Homo sapiens: one gene and its partner. The protein of the gene in region 2 interacts with the protein of the main gene of each other region in a pairwise test. Each region holds a gene or a part of one and is shown on either strand. Other genes may lie near its edges.

What was found. The genes of interacting proteins can lie anywhere in the genome.
Region 1: the proteins of DHX38 (region 2) and NUDCD1 interact in binary tests that used the Homo sapiens proteins (3 or more experiments, as listed by UniProt).

Annotation. Positions count from the first base shown.
Region 1 is NC_000008.11:109,289,088-109,296,087, forward strand, and holds part of NUDCD1 (nudC domain-containing protein 1), read right to left. Parts: intron 4,438-7,000; coding exon 4,257-4,437; intron 847-4,256; coding exon 664-846; intron 1-663.
Region 2 is NC_000016.10:72,095,987-72,104,671, reverse strand, and holds part of DHX38 (pre-mRNA-splicing factor ATP-dependent RNA helicase PRP16), read right to left. Parts: intron 8,534-8,685; 5' UTR 8,515-8,533; coding exon 8,192-8,514; intron 7,851-8,191; coding exon 7,663-7,850; intron 6,996-7,662; coding exon 6,891-6,995; intron 6,028-6,890; coding exon 5,880-6,027; intron 5,746-5,879; coding exon 5,627-5,745; intron 5,469-5,626; coding exon 5,392-5,468; intron 4,941-5,391; coding exon 4,785-4,940; intron 4,237-4,784; coding exon 4,075-4,236; intron 3,587-4,074; coding exon 3,479-3,586; intron 3,173-3,478; coding exon 3,060-3,172; intron 1,599-3,059; coding exon 1,461-1,598; intron 1,071-1,460; coding exon 884-1,070; intron 727-883; coding exon 541-726; intron 187-540; coding exon 46-186; intron 1-45. UniProt on the Homo sapiens protein: Probable ATP-binding RNA helicase. Involved in pre-mRNA splicing as component of the spliceosome.

The DNA.
Region 1 (7,000 bases), on a different chromosome or scaffold from region 2:
GCCTCAGCCTCCCAAGTAGCTGGCACTACAGGCACCCACCACCACATCCGGATTTTTTTTTGTATTTTTAGTAGAGACGGGGTTTCATCGTGTCAGCCAGGATGGTCTCGATCTCCTGACCTTTTGATCCGCCCACCTAGGCCTCCCAAAGTGCTGGGATTACAGGCGTGAGCTGCCGTGCCTGGCCAGTCTTTTCATGCTAAAACATAACCTTCATTCATTCATTCAACATTAATAAAATTATGTGATTCTGCCCTCAAGGAACTTACTTTCAGTTTAGTATAAAAGGTAAGAACAGGTACATTAGCTTAACTTATTTTTAAAAATTAGTATCTTCAATATTACACTATTAATACCATCAATACTAATAGCAAATAGACATTTATTTGATAACTATTTATTAAGCACCTAATCAAGGAAGCTAATAAACGATTTTTTAAAAAAACATTTTTGGTAATAACAAAATGATCAAATTAAACCAGTTCATTCACACTATTAAGGTGGTATACCTTATAAAAGACTTCTGGAAAATACATGAGAAAATAAAGAAAAAATTATGCATCTATCTTGCCCTTGTAGAACTATTAACCTAACTGGGAAAATAAAAGACATAAATATATGTTTATGAAAATACCAATAAGCTCTATTAAGAATAAAAATTACCTTTGATTTTCTCTGATATGTCTTCATCCATATTTTCTTCAAGATCTTGACCAGCCTGAACAAATGTTAAAGACTTGTAGGATACAATCATTAGACCATTTCCATCAGGCTCAATAGCAGCATAATGTGGCACTGACTTTCCACGGAGAATATCACGCTTAATAATTTCATATTTTTTATTATCTGTAAGAAAAGTATTTCAGAACAAAACATTACAAATAAAAACTATTATCAAAATATTCTGATATTTAAAAATTGATTTTAATTATAATTAAATAATTTGAATGTATTATTAAAAGGTACACTATTAAGAGTCTTTTCATAAGGATAAACAATTTACAATCTAATTTTCCGTAAATAAGTCCCTATTTTAAAATATTGGGTCTGGTGAAATTTGTTCCCGATTGTCCTGTCCAATGTGGTAGTCACTGGCCAGAAGTATCTACTTAAAATTAAGTAAAATTTAAATTCCTCAGTCATACTAGCCACATTTTAATTGCTCAATAGCCACACATGGCTAGTAGCTACTGCAGTGAATGGTACACATATAAAACATGTCCATCTTGGAGAAATCTCTTATTAGACAGCAGTACCCCAGAACTCCAACATGACCGGCTTACTTGGAATAACAGCTTCTGTATGACCTACCTCTCCTTGACTAAAGCCTGTCTGCCTTCTCAGCAGGTATGTGATAAGTTTCTTCTGAAAAGTGACAAATTGAGGACAAGGGGAAACATGCAGTGTGGTCTATTTTTCTGCCTGCTCTAACTCCCGATAAGGGGCATTTTAACAATGAAATAAATTTATAGCAGAAATGATTTTTTTTACACAAGACATTTATCTATATGCTTATAATTAAACATAAATTAGTGCTACTTTTAAGATATAAACAATTAACTGTATTCCAAAAGTTTCTGACAAATTAAACTTATTTTCCTATAAAGACAGTAATTTTTTGCTTTAAAAAGTACTCAAACATTTTAGCTGACTCCATACTTTTACCTATACTGTTACTCTTTAAGTGGGTTATACTTGTAGGCTTCATACTGAGTAGTCGAAAATCACAACTTAATGTCATATTATTATGAGTTTTTACATAATAATACCATCTGTTCTAAAATATCTCATTGTTTTTACTCAAAATCCTCACCTACATTCACACATTCAGTTCACACATATTTAAGAACAGGCTTGTAATTTAATGAATGAACAAAACTCCTACACTTCCCCTATAGATACATGCAGGGCCAAAAGTCCTACTTGACTTTAAAGATCCAAACACCGACATCACATATTTATAGCGTGGCCTTTCCCAGCATGCATGGGACAGAAAAGAATAGGAAGCCTCAAAAACCGGATTCCGTGGTTAAATATGTGGAGAAATGCTAGGTTAAAATTAAATGTAAATTGTTTTTTGTTTGTTTGAGACAGGGTCTTACCCTGTTGCCCAAGCTAAATGCAGTGGCACGATCACTGCTCACTGTAGCCTCAAACTCCCAGGCTCAAGCAATCCTCCTGAATAGCTGGAACTATAGGTGCACAACACCATGCCGAGCTAATGTTTCTGTAATTTTTGTAGAGACGGTGGCTCACTATGTTGCCCAGACTGGTCTCAAACTCCTGGGCTCAAGTGATCCTCCTGCTTTGACCTCCCAAAGTGCTGAGATTACAGGCATGAGCCTTTGCATCTAACCTAAACTTTTTTTACTCACAATTTTTAGAAACTTTAATATGCTTAATGTGTAATGGAGCTATTTTATGTCCACATTTTCAAACTTATCTGACCATAAATATACTTTATGAAATGTTTCATTCAAAATAGTTTACGAAAATACTGTTCTGTTAACTAAAAAGAAAAAGAAGAAAAAAACCAATCATATTAGTAGTAGTCTGGGAGAGAAGGAACAAGATATAAAAGAAAGATAAAGGGAACAATAAAGAGAATTAATGATTCTATAACTACAATCTTGGGAGAAAAAAGGTTAGTCTCAATGTATTTGTCCAGCTGAGGCAAAGAAACGAAGACAAACGGGATGGAGAAGTAGAGCTGGAGCAGAGTACTGCTATGTTCTGAGGCAATTTGATGAGTTACCACAGATTGAGAAAAAGATGTTACAGAACCAAGTGTCTTGGAGAAAGGAGGAGGAATATGCATGACAATGTCTCCTGTAAGATTTTGAATTACGTACCTTAAAAAAATTAAGGCTTCCATTATCTAAAGCAGGGGTTCTGCAAACTAGGACCCTTGAGCCAAAGCTGAATCTAGGCCTATTTTTGTATGGCCTGTGAGCTAAGCATGAATTTTATATTTTTAAATTGTTAAAATAGTAATATTTAAAGAATAATATTTAAATATATGTCAAAAAAACATAAAATTCAAATTCCTATGTCCATAAAGTATGATTGGAACACAACTATACTCATTCATTTATATATTGTCTATGGATGCTTTTGTACTGTGTTGGCATACTCGGATAGCTGTGACATAGATCTTATGGTTACCAACTGGGATTTCAAAAAAGTTTTCTAATATCTAATTAAAGTTTAAAGTTACTGTGTTCCTCCAGAGATAAAACTACAACACCAAAAAGAACTAATAAATTATATTGAATACTTCAAAGAACAAATCTAGGAGACTTATTCAGTTTATTTATAAACAATTTTGAGATATCTATTAGATAGACAGATAGCTGTTTTAGAATAAAAGGCAAAACCCTCTTAGGAAACAAATACTAACAGTCTTTACTGAATTGCAAACTAGCAGCTATGGTAAAGAAATATTTTTCTACAGAGATGAATGATAATTTAATTTATATTAACTTACTCATAAATGAGTCAGCTAATAAAAACTACTGAGAAAAAGAGCATAGAGTCATTATGGAAACAAGCACTCTCAGTACTCAACTACAGTTAAAAAGAAAACACTCAATGAGTCAGCAGGAACTAAGCAAAGGCAAAGAGATTTCTTAATACCTTAAAGAAATCCTAATTAATTCATGAGATTGTAATTTTTAATGTCAAGTTAGAAGCTTGACAGACAGCTTCAAACAGACCAAAGTTCAGGACTATTCTAAACATGGGAGCACATCAGGTAAGAAAAAGTAACAGTTTTCCTAAATGTAGAAACAAATAATGAAGTTCAATTAGATTTAAAAGAAATCATACCTGTACTTTAATGAAATAAAGACATTCATTTCCAAGTAAGTATTTATATTTATTTACATTTAAATTATACTATAATGTATTAATTTACATTTAGTTTTAGGTATATGTTTCTGTGTATCACACATATATATGCATATATTTTTGTATATATTAAAAATATACCCGTTAAATTATTCAAAACTTATATAACAATGTCTTCTTTTATATAAAAGGCATAATTGGCTGTGGATGCACACTGCAATTTTTTTCTATAAAATATACCTGAGGAAAAACTATCTATACATATTCATTCCACCAGTGGTGGCAGGTGCCAGAATTGTAACACAATGCCCAAGAAAGAGCAAACAGTATTTACAGGGACAGCTTTGTGTTTCAAAATCTACTAAATAATGCCAACCAGTAGAGACAGATTCAGACTTTTGTTTTACCTTGATTTTTCTTACTGATAGTGACCCACTCCAGAGAAACATAGAAACCACTTCCTTTCATATCCAATTCCTCTTTCTCTATTCGAAGAAGTAGGGTAGCTATAGAATGTTCTTCAGCATTTAGCAGTGAGATACTGTGAATTATAATAAAAGGATCCCCAAGTTCTTCATTAAACATAATCTACAAAACAAAATTACACACACAAAAAAGTGTACATAATTACATGAACACAGATAGCATAGAGGGAATATATAGGATTCTGGTGATTCAACAGTTATTTTGGATACTATTTATTACAAGAAATTTGAAAATAAAAAGGCCTTTACATAAAGACTGCAAGTTTAGATAATGTTCCCTGAGGACAGAACTTTTAAGAAAATATTTATTTGTATAAGAAAAAAACTGATCATTAGTCTTGGCTACCTTGCTTCCTCTCAGTTTCTAGATATTGTATATGAGTGTGCATGTGTGTATGCCTTTTTCCTGTTTTTTGTTTGTTATTTATTCTCTGGAAGTTTACAAAGGCAAGAGTCAAAAACATTGAAGAATAAATCACCAAAACATGTTTTTTCTCAAAAACAAAAGAGCCTATTAGCATTTAAGAATAAGTTAACAAACTCTATTTAAAATAATCCTAAAGTGTTTTTTGAAAAGCAAAAAAGCATCATATAAAAACACACAAAATCTTGTCTAAGCATCATACAGAAACACACAAAATCTTATCAAATTCTTTCTTATACCACAAACACAAGATCTCAACAACTATTACATTTTTAAGACTAAATACAAAATAGAGAAGGTTTTAAGGCTGCTTCCTAAACAAGATTTCCAAATAAGATATGGACAGTTGAGAAAAAGCCTAACTGAAAAAAAGGTAGCTTTAAAAAACAAAAACAAAAAACAAAAAACAAAACCTGTACCTGGTATCCCCACATATCTACTTCTACTTGAAAACCTTACAAAGAAAAATGTGCTTTAATGTCATCAAGTTCCCTATGTATTTGAACATCTGCCAAAATCATTCAAGTAATGGGCCTTCAGAATCCATTCTTAAGATTTCCATAAACAGAAAAAACAAAAGCTTAAAAAAAATCCTTAAATATTCAAAACAGAGATGACAGATGAAGGCAGGTTTTTATTGGTTGATTGGGTTTTGCTTTTGTTTGAGGAATAGGGGAAACAAAACGGAAGAACAGAAAATGACAAGTTTTGGCAGGAACAAGTAGCTAGTTTATTGTTTCTTTTTTTCTTTCTAGTATGAGTGAAAGGAACTGTAATGAAACCAGAAGAGTAGATGGCGTACTTTTAAAAATTGTTAGGCTGAAGTTTCTAGTTTTCTGAACAAGCCCAGCATCTAAACTGTGATACCGTTGATACATGGCACTTCCATGGTATTAGAGGCAACACATTTGGAAAGCAAGCTGTCTCCTTTAATTTCTCTTTTTAAACTTCAGTAATCACCACCACCACCCTTGGCCCCCTTACCCCCCACCATGCTCCGTAATCACTTCTACTTTTAGCTTCTCTGTTATATTAATTACCCTAAAGTCCTAAAACCCTCCTGAATTGTTTCTTAAAGTGACCAATATTCCACAGTATCCCTCCCACCTCAATTAATCCCCAAGTCTCCTCCCTCTCCCACCAGTATCTAGTCAAAACTATTATTAGCTGAAAACATCTCTGAAGGGAGCTTATTTCATTAGGGCAGTATATGCTAAAGAAGGCACAAGGTAGAATTAAGTTTTTAAATTTATTTAAAAGATACTATTGAAGTCTTAATACACGCCAAGGGGATACACAAAACAAAACCAAAAGAAGTATAAGCCCATATGAAATAATGTGTGGTATTATTTTTAAGATGAAAGTGAGCCAAGTAGGTTTGTCCTGTTCAAAATCTACAGAATCCATACAGCTCAATACCAGATAAATTCCCACTCATATCTCTCCTGCGCATTATTCTCAAAATACCTTCCAACTGTTTCAGGTAGCTGTGCTACATACCACATTACTTCTGTTTTTCAGAAAAATGAAAGTTGTTACTAAAGGCCAAAACAGAAATTGCCACAGTATCCAATGAATATCTGAAACTGTGAATGCAACAGGCTCTTGTAAATAGGCTACTGCTGTTCTGGTTATTTACTGTGTATTTTGAACATACTATAATTTGGTAGTATAACATTTAGTATAACTTAGTAAGGTAGGTAAACCATTTGGTTCTAAGACCTAACTGGTTTTTCTCAAGTAATTAAAGCCTGGTCTCTGTAGGCATCTGTTGGTCAGATGAAATTATTTTATAAGACATAAATATATTAAGCTCGCATCTCTTTATTTACCCAGAACTAAAGGCTACCTACAGAGATTCAGACAGTAGCAATATTACAATACACTTATTAGCATAACTCAAAGGAGCTGAAGCAGTAAACTAAATCTTTTGATTATCTACTTGGCATCATTTTCTTCTGTTTTCAAAAACTGTAGTTCTAGAGAAATTAATTCCTTATTTATTACTATTAAAACCCTAAACTACCCTTTAGATTTATATCTAATTTTTAAAATTAAAGTAAAAATGTTGTCTTGGAAATTGGCATATAACTATATATTTATATCATGTATTTTTCTAAGTAGAGAATATTCTGGTAATCTGACTACTATTTGACCAATGTAAACATCCCAGCAAATCTAACATAATGGCAGAGGAGAAAATCATCCTAACATAAGCTTTTGGTCAACTCTTCTTCAAGAA
Region 2 (8,685 bases):
TGCGTGGCATGGAAGGGTCAGTTCGTAACATGGTGGCCTCAATACCTTGCTGAAGAGGATGTCAACAGGGAAGGTACGGCCAGGGATGTGGAAGATGGGGACATTCCCAAAAAAGGCAGCAAACTTCTCCGCATCCATCGTGGCTGATGTGACGATGAGCTTCAGGTCTGAGCGCCGAGCCACTACCTGAGAGAAGAGGCGGCTCGGAGGCCCCCATGGTGGGGACCCTTGGCTCCTGTCCCCCAGTCCCATCAGCACCACCCCCGAGGAAACACAAGCCAAAGCTGACAAATGGGCCTATTCAATTCTTACCAATCATGAAGACTGAAGCAATGGAGCCACTGCCCAGAAAACCCCAAGCCACCCTCAGCAGAGCAAGAACAGCATGAACTACAACCCGAGTCTGAACTGCAACCAGAGGCCTCAGGAACCTCTGGCCTACCAGAGACCCCCTCAGCCCACCTGGAGCAACCCACTAGCTACTGGTGGTGCACTGGTCAACACCCCATGCGCAGAGAGACCAAACCACACAGCCCTCACCTCCCGGAGCAGCCCAAAGAGCACGTCAGTGTTGAGGGAGCGCTCGTGGGCCTCGTCCATGATGATGGCACTGTAGTGATCCAGGTCGGCTTCCCGGAGGGACTCTCGGAGCAGGATCCCGTCAGTCATGTATTTGATCAAGGTGTTCTCTGAAGTGCAGTCTTCAAAGCGGATGGCATAGCCCACCTGGAGGTCAGAGAGATGGCTCAGATGCCCTGGCCACCGGCTCACCACCAGCACACCCCGTACTGGGGTCCGAGTCTTAGCAGATCACACCCTTTAGCAAAAATGGGTGGAAGCTACTAGGGAATAACTACATGGCTCAGCCCCCACGCCCACTCACCTCCTCGCCAAGGTTTCCCCCCATCTCTTCACTGACTCTCTTGGCCACTGACATGGCAGCTACACGCCGGGGCTGGGTACACCCAATCATCCCATAGTCCGTGTAACCATCTTCATGCAGGTACTGCGTCAGCTGAGTGGTCTTACCACTCCCCGTCTCCCCAACCACGATCACGATGCTGTTGTCTCTACAAGGACAAGCAGGCAAAGGGCTTATCAGCCGAAGTGGAAGGCCAACACCCAGCCTCCAAGAAGACTCCGCTACCTCCTATCCCCATGACTAGCTATCCAGGGAGCATGCCGGTTTAGAAGGGAGAATTTCACTGGGACAACAGCCTCTTACTGAGATAACACCTGAAACATCTGGAATACGGTGAGGTTTAAACAGGTGAGCTAAAACAAAATGGTGCCATCCCGTTACTTTGTGCAGTGTACCCCAGGCATGAGGTCAGAGGAAAAAAGTATTTCCCTTCTCCACTGGGTGCAATGCACAAAAGAAAAAGAGCTCCTGGGTAAACATGGGAGACCAAGGGCACCCCTGACTTGACACTAGATTCCTGGGCCCCGGGTGAAGTTACCTGATAATAGTGAGCAGCTCCTGCTGCACTGCAAAGATGGGCAGGTACTGCCTCTGCTCCAGGATGGACTTCTTCTTTGCAAATTCACTGCTGGCTTCGCTCTTTCTCTTCATGTGATCTGCAAACTTCTGCTCTGTCCTAGGAACACACAGCAGCCTAAACACCCTGCATGGTGCCCCATGCTGTCCTTCCTGATTGGGTTGCTGCCCTCCTTCCTACGCTCAGGAATGAGGACTTCGGCAAGAGTCTGAGACACCAAAGCAGCCAGGGAATCTGAGATGGTTCTCATCGACCTCAGGACTGAAACTGCTACTTGAGAATCCATCATCCACAACACACTCGACACCACAGGGTCCAACAGAGCTAGCTGAACATGGATCGGAGGATTTACAGATCACCATATTAGCAAACCCTCTAACCAAAACAGAGTGAGCAGAAGAGGAGTGGAAATCAATCCCCAGGTCACTAACTTGTAGAAAATACCCTCGGGCAATTTCAGCACAACGTCTAAAGGGCTAAAATAGCCACACAGGCCTTGTGAGGAGGTAAGGGTGCAGAGCACGGGACATGGGTCAAACTTCCTCCCTCCTCTTGGCAGGACAGCAGGAAAGCATAGTCTGTACGGTTTTGTTTTCAAAGAACTGTGAAAACAGCCCCACTAAACAGTAACCTGCAACCTCTACTGAAAGCTCTCAATGTCTGACACATGTACACACCCGAGATGCAGAGCACTGTCACTTTCTCAAGGCTGCCTGGCAAAAAGACACCAGTTCAGTGCTCCACACAGTCCACACACCCCTCCCCAACCCCCTCCCCAGAGACTTCCTGTCTGATGTGCCGCCCCATGCTCTGCTGAGCTTCCTATTTCTAATTTCACCCAGTCCCTCCTGGTCACCCAATAACTAATACCTGAGGAATTAAGTTAACTAGAGAAGAATAAGGGCTGATCAATAGTACCAACTTCTCGTATGGACATTTCACACAGGAGTGGAGAGAATTATTAACTCAGATGACCGTTCAGTAGAACATAAGGGCATTCGAAGGATGAGGATCTTAAGGGACAGATAAGTCCAGCCACCTGCCCAATGCAGGAATCCCAACTCAGCATCTGCTTAGATGCCTCTATGAGCAGAGAAGTCACTGGCCAATAAGATAACCCTTTCTATTTTGGAACCTCTTTTAAAAATAGTTCTTATAGTGAACTCAAATCTAAGGGACTAAAACCCAGCTGCCCATGCTGAACACCTGGGAGGTACTTCAGCAGAGTGGCTCTGATGTGAGACGGCCTGGGTCTGATCCTAACTCCCTCACTGACAAGCTGGGTGACCTCAGACAAGTTACTTAACCTCCCTGGGCCTCCTTCCTCTCACAACACCAGCACCAGAGGAAGCAGTGTGAGGGAGGAGGAATCACATATAGGAAAAGTGGAGGACAGTGAAGAGACCAGGAGGAAGGGACCAGAGAGAATGGAAGATGCAGAGAGGTATCCTAAGAGTCTCCCACTCAGGAGCCACAAAGTCGATGGGTTCTGCCGCAACTGCCCACATGGGCCCCCATCTTTGGAGCAAGGCTGATGTGCTGCTGGCTGAGGCTGCCCACCTGTAGTCCACCTTCCCATCCTCCGTCACAGCTTTATCTGGCTCTTCCTCCTTCTTGACGCCCATTATATCTCCCAGTTTGGTCCCCGCCAGTTCCCAGTGTTTGTGCTGAGCCTGAAAAGGAAAAAGGTCAGTCTGCTCCATCCTGCCACATGACTGCGAGCAATGGAAAATCAATCCCACGGGAGAGCAGACTTCACCCCGCAGGTGGTAAACTCCCCCAGAGTGCTGGTGGCACCGAGCCACATTCCAATCCTCAAGCCTCCAGCTCTCCCAACACCAGGCCCCGCAGCTGTCGGGCCTAAGGACTTGATAGAGGGGACTCCTAACTTCTATCTGTGGGCCTAGTAAGACTTATGAAGAGAAGAAAAAAGAAAAAAATACACATAAACTTCCCAGCCACGAAACCAAGAAACCAACCTTCTTGCGCTCCTTCTGCTCCCTGTGCTTCCGCACTGTCTGGCTGCCTTTCCGAGCAATGATGGCCAGGTCAGAAGTAGCATCCTTCACTGGAATCACCGGCTCCGGCTGCAGCAGTGGGGAGAAAGAGCGATGCCCGTTAAAATCAGCAAGAAGGCCATGTTCATAAGATCCCTACTTGTGAAAGGGACTGCTACCCTCTCATGGTACAGGGCTATTTTCTCCCTTCTCTTCTTTCTGTCTCCACATCAGGCCTTTTTTGTGTGTGAGACAGAGTCTTGCTCTGTCGCCCAGACTGGAGTGCAGTGGTGTGATCTCTGCTCACTGCAGGTTCTGCCTCCCAGGTTCAAGCAACTCTCCTGCCTCAGCCTCCCGAGTAGCTGAAACTACAGGTGCCTGCCACCACACCCGGCTAATTTTTGTACTTTTGAGACAGGGTTTCACTATATTGCCCAGGCAGGCCTTGAACTCCTGGTATCCAATGATCCACCCTCCTCAGCCTCCCAAAGTGCCGGGATGACAGGCATGAGCCACTGCACCTGGCCCACATCAGGTCTCTCTGAGCTGTCTTGTCCCTGGCCACAGAGGAGCCTCACCTGCTTGGTGAAGACAATGCGCCCATCCAGAAAGGGAGGCACCAGATTGTGCACCATCAGATGCACCTTGGCCGCGTTGTCCTCTTCAAAGTCCTCATCCACCTCCAGCCGATGGACCACCCCACTGGTGAGCATGCGGTTTGTCTCCCAGCGCTCGTTATCCTGTGAGGACACAATGGGAGCCACACTCAAATTGCCACCCCAAAGGTCGTCCTGAAAGGTTATGAGGTAAGTCCACACATCAAGTCCTGACAGAAGGCCACTGGTAGCTGCAAAGATGTCACAGGCCTCTACCCACAGCTCCAAAGACAGAAGAGGTGCTGATCCCAAATCACCTGCAGGAGTTTGTTCCAAGCAGCAGCACCTTTCATCTAAATCAGAACCTCTAGAGGGACACACAAATGGTAAGTGTCCCTAGCCCACATCAGAGACACAAAGAACACAGACCACAGAGGCAGGTCCCAATGCACCTGTTCCCATCAACAGTACTTCCCCTCAAGGAAGTACTGCAAAAGAGAGAAGTACGAGCCGGGGCTTTCCTTAAGCTACTAAAAGGCTCATCACCCACTCCTCTTCCACCTCCAGAGGATCTGGGCTTCTCGGCAATCAGGGGACAAGCTGTGCTGCCCTCACTTGGGGATAACCTGCTGCTTCCCCACGTGCTCTACCTCCAGCTCTGAATCTGCTCCAACTTCTGCAGGCAGCCTCACCTCATTGATCTGTCTCCGCTGAGCTGAAATGCGCTTCTGCTTCTGTTTATGCAGGTGCTGCTCCCGCCTCCTCACGTAGTCCTCGGAGGAGTAGGCCAGCGGGTTGTGGAACTCGTCATAGCCCTCGTCCATCATGTACCAATCCCGATCGGCTTGCTGCAGGGCAGGAGGCAAAGCAAGGGAGTGAGGGACAGATCAAGTTTATGCACGAGACATGGCCAACAGAAGAAGGGACGCTTGGTAGGAAGTCACTACTGCAGTGGAGCTACCCTTGTGAGGGGTGCAGGAGAGGCCTCCCTGCAGACACATGCCATCTGGAGGAGAACCACAGTGGGCAACTACACAGGACTGGAGGGCAGCCCATCACGATAGCACTTCTTAGATTTACCACATGGTGGCACCAACACATAACAGAACAGTTAGGTCAGCCTACTGCAGTGAGTGACAGGGTTCACCGTGCCGTCTATGCCTCTGCAAAGAGACTCCAGGGCATTGGGTCTGAACAGGGCTCAGGTGTACCCTCATCAAAGCCCAGTCCTGCTAGAGGGTCACCCATCTACAGACGGCCACCAGCCCCGATCAGCCCCTCAGAGGTATAAAACTTTACCCTCTGGTCATCTTCCCACTGCTGCCGCTCCTCCTCCGTGTCAAATGAAATTCCTTCTTCGCCCTCCTCACGTCTTCCTGGAGGAGCACAGGAAGCAGGTCAGTCCATGCCCTGGCCTGTCCCCAGCGGCCCCAGACAGATCTGCAGGGCCATGCAGCTCCAGAAGGGCAGCCCCTGCTCATCCTCGCTAGGGCAAGCAAGCCTGCTCTTCTGCCTGCTGCCCCACAGGCCTCACCTCGGCCCCTGGACAGACGCGGGGTGGACCCCAAGTGTCTTCTGTCATCGGCCCACTCGTTATATTTGTAGGAGGGAGTTGGCAGAGGCGTGTCATCCGAGTACTTGCCCCTCACAGACCTGGGAACAGCAGCACCAGCATCACAAAACTGTCACTGAGCTAAGCCACGTCCTCCTGGCCACCATCTGCTCTCCCTGCCGAGGCTCCTTACCGCCCACCCAGCGAAACTGGGCTGCTCTGCCCAGAACATCACCTGTCTCGATCTCGAGTGGACAGCCGATGGCTCCGCTCAGAATCCCGATAGGAAGGCGTCGGGGAGGGCGATTCCCACTGTGAGCGCCTTGAGGAGCCATAGCCACTGTCCTCTTCCTCCCAGGTAGACCTTGAAGGGGTGGCTGCATCTGGGCCACAAAAGACACATCCACAGGAAACATCTCACTTAACCATGACATGGTCTAGAACCAGTTGCCAAAAGTCAATTCCCCAAATTTACTCCTTTTACTATTTCTAAACCTTGCATGTATCTATAACGGTTAAGATCGGTTTTGACAGTTTTTAAAGATATCTCAATTTTTAATGGTCCAGGATGTATTTTTCCTTTTTTTCTTTTTTTGAGACAAAGTCTTGCTCTGTCGCCCAGGCTGGAGTACAGTGGTGTGATCTTGGCTCACTGCAACCTCTGCCTCCCGGGTACAAGTGATTCTCCTGCCTCAGCCTACCGAATAGCTGGGATTATAGGTACCCACCACCACCCCAGGCTAATTTTTGTATTTTTAGTAGGGATGGGGTTTCACCATGTTGGCCAGGCTGGTCTCGAACTCCTGACCTCAAGTAATCTGCCTGCCTCAGCCTCCCAAAGTACTGGGATTACAGGTATGAGCCACTGCACCTAGCCAATGGTCCAGTTTGCATTCTGTGTTTATGACAACATTTTAAGGGATATTTACTTTATCTCTACAAACACACCCTTCTTGGATATAAGTAGTTCTTTTTAATAAACACTTCTTCTACCTCCAGCTCCCTATTCTTTCCTACCATTTGGAAAACTGGCCATTCAGCAAACCAGCCTCTCACCTTACAGGAACCATATCCACCCCAAGTGCAGAGCTGTGCCCACCTGACTCAGAACCAACTATCCCAAGATGTTCATGGTAGAATCGGGAATTCTGACTCAATGCCTCAGCAATCTCACTGAAGACGAGAGTCACTCACTCTGCCTTTTATACACTTGAATCCTCACAAGCCACCAAAACAGTGAGTCTACCTTTAGGTCGATGTCGTGGGCTCTCGGGTTCATTTCTTCTGCTGCTACGCTCTGACCCTCCATCTCGCTCTGATCTGCTGCTGTGCCTACTTCTATCCCGCTCATCTATGAAGAGTCACACGAAGCTTAAAAACATGCATCCCATCCTAAGGTATACACATCTTCACCCTAGAGAAAGGACAGGCTGCCCACTCACTCACAGGTGCAACCTGCACTGCTCGAATGTGATCCGTGGACTCCTGAAACTCACCTATCCCCATTCTCCCAAGGGGGAAAAATAGTTACTGCCTAGAAAATTTCAAACCCACAGTAACAGTTATTTTCCAGCAAGAATTCAAAAAATACTAGTGCGAGTTTACAGTGAATCATTTTTTTTAATAGTTACAATTCTATCAGCTATAAAACTTAATACTGAGCAAGGACAGCATTGGATTTTTTTGTCTAGCTTTGTTCCATAGCACTGTCCTTTCTCTATCACCAATACTATTAGAAATGCTGGTCTCTTATACATATTTACCCATTATCTCCTTTATCATCAATTTTCATAATAAAACGAAGACCACACACTCAAGGAGAGCAGCTATGTTACAGGCAACAGCTCTTTTCTTAAACTAGTATTCCCAATCCCAGCAGGGTCAAAACCACTCAGGCGGACATCATGCAAATAGGACTCCCTAACAAATGGGTGTTGCAAAAACTCCTGCAACAAGAAAAAGGCTGACACATTTATTCGAATGCTAATGGACAATAGGAACTGTGCTGGACAGTTTACCTCTGTCCCTCTTGCGGTCATAGTCTCGATCCCGCGATTTCTCCTTCTTCCAATCCTTTTCTTCTTTGGACGAGGCATAGACACCATGTTCCCGCCGCTCCCGCTCTCTCTGCCGACTGCGTTCCCAAAACTCTTCGCTCACACCACCCGGATGGGATGGAGTCTCTACCCGAGCAGACCGATAATGTCTGAAACAGGGAGAGCAACTGGTAAAGGCCCCTCCATAGGAGAAAAACTCTGCCCTAAAACCTTTGGCTGTCCAAACAAGTGATCTGTCCTTTTCCACTTTCTCTCCCTGGGACGCAGGCTCACATATGGCAACAACCCAAGGCATTTCTAACCTCTACCATCTCGTCTTTATTCACCTTTGTTTTTCCCCACAAATTCCTACCTACCTTCAGTATTACAGAATCATAATAAAATCATAAAGCTCTAAATCTCCAACAGGAAAACTGAGAGATAAACATGAGCTGTTATTTTCCAGCCTCCGTTCGCTTCCCTCTGGGCTAACCCATACTAAGGCCTTTACCTGTCTTTCCGGATATTTTGGCCAGCCTGGTCACCGCCCTCTTCCTCAGCATCCTTCTGGTCATCCTTGCTCTCTTCCCAGTCCTTGTAGGAGGAGACTTTGGACTTCTTCTTGTCCTCCCCATCGTCCTTCTCCTCTCGCTCTCTCCGTTTCAGGGAAGCCAGCAAGTCCAGTCCGAGTAATGAAGGGCGGGGAGCAGGAGCCTTGAAGACATGCTGCTCGCTGGCCGCACTTTTGGACTTGCAAATAAGACCACCAACCTGACAGTCCAGATCAGTGCCTTCCAATCGATGGATCGAGGCATCCTCACTGGTGTCCCCCATCACAGGATCTGGGATTTCTCTGGAAGGAAGGCAAACCATTTGGTACTAGAGAAGGCTCAGCTCTACTATATCCCACAATAAATGCAGTTATGGTTATATGTAGGTGATTAACCTTCCCCATCTCCCCTTAAGACCAGGACTACTTTTGCTCCCTCTCTCCAAGACCTTTCC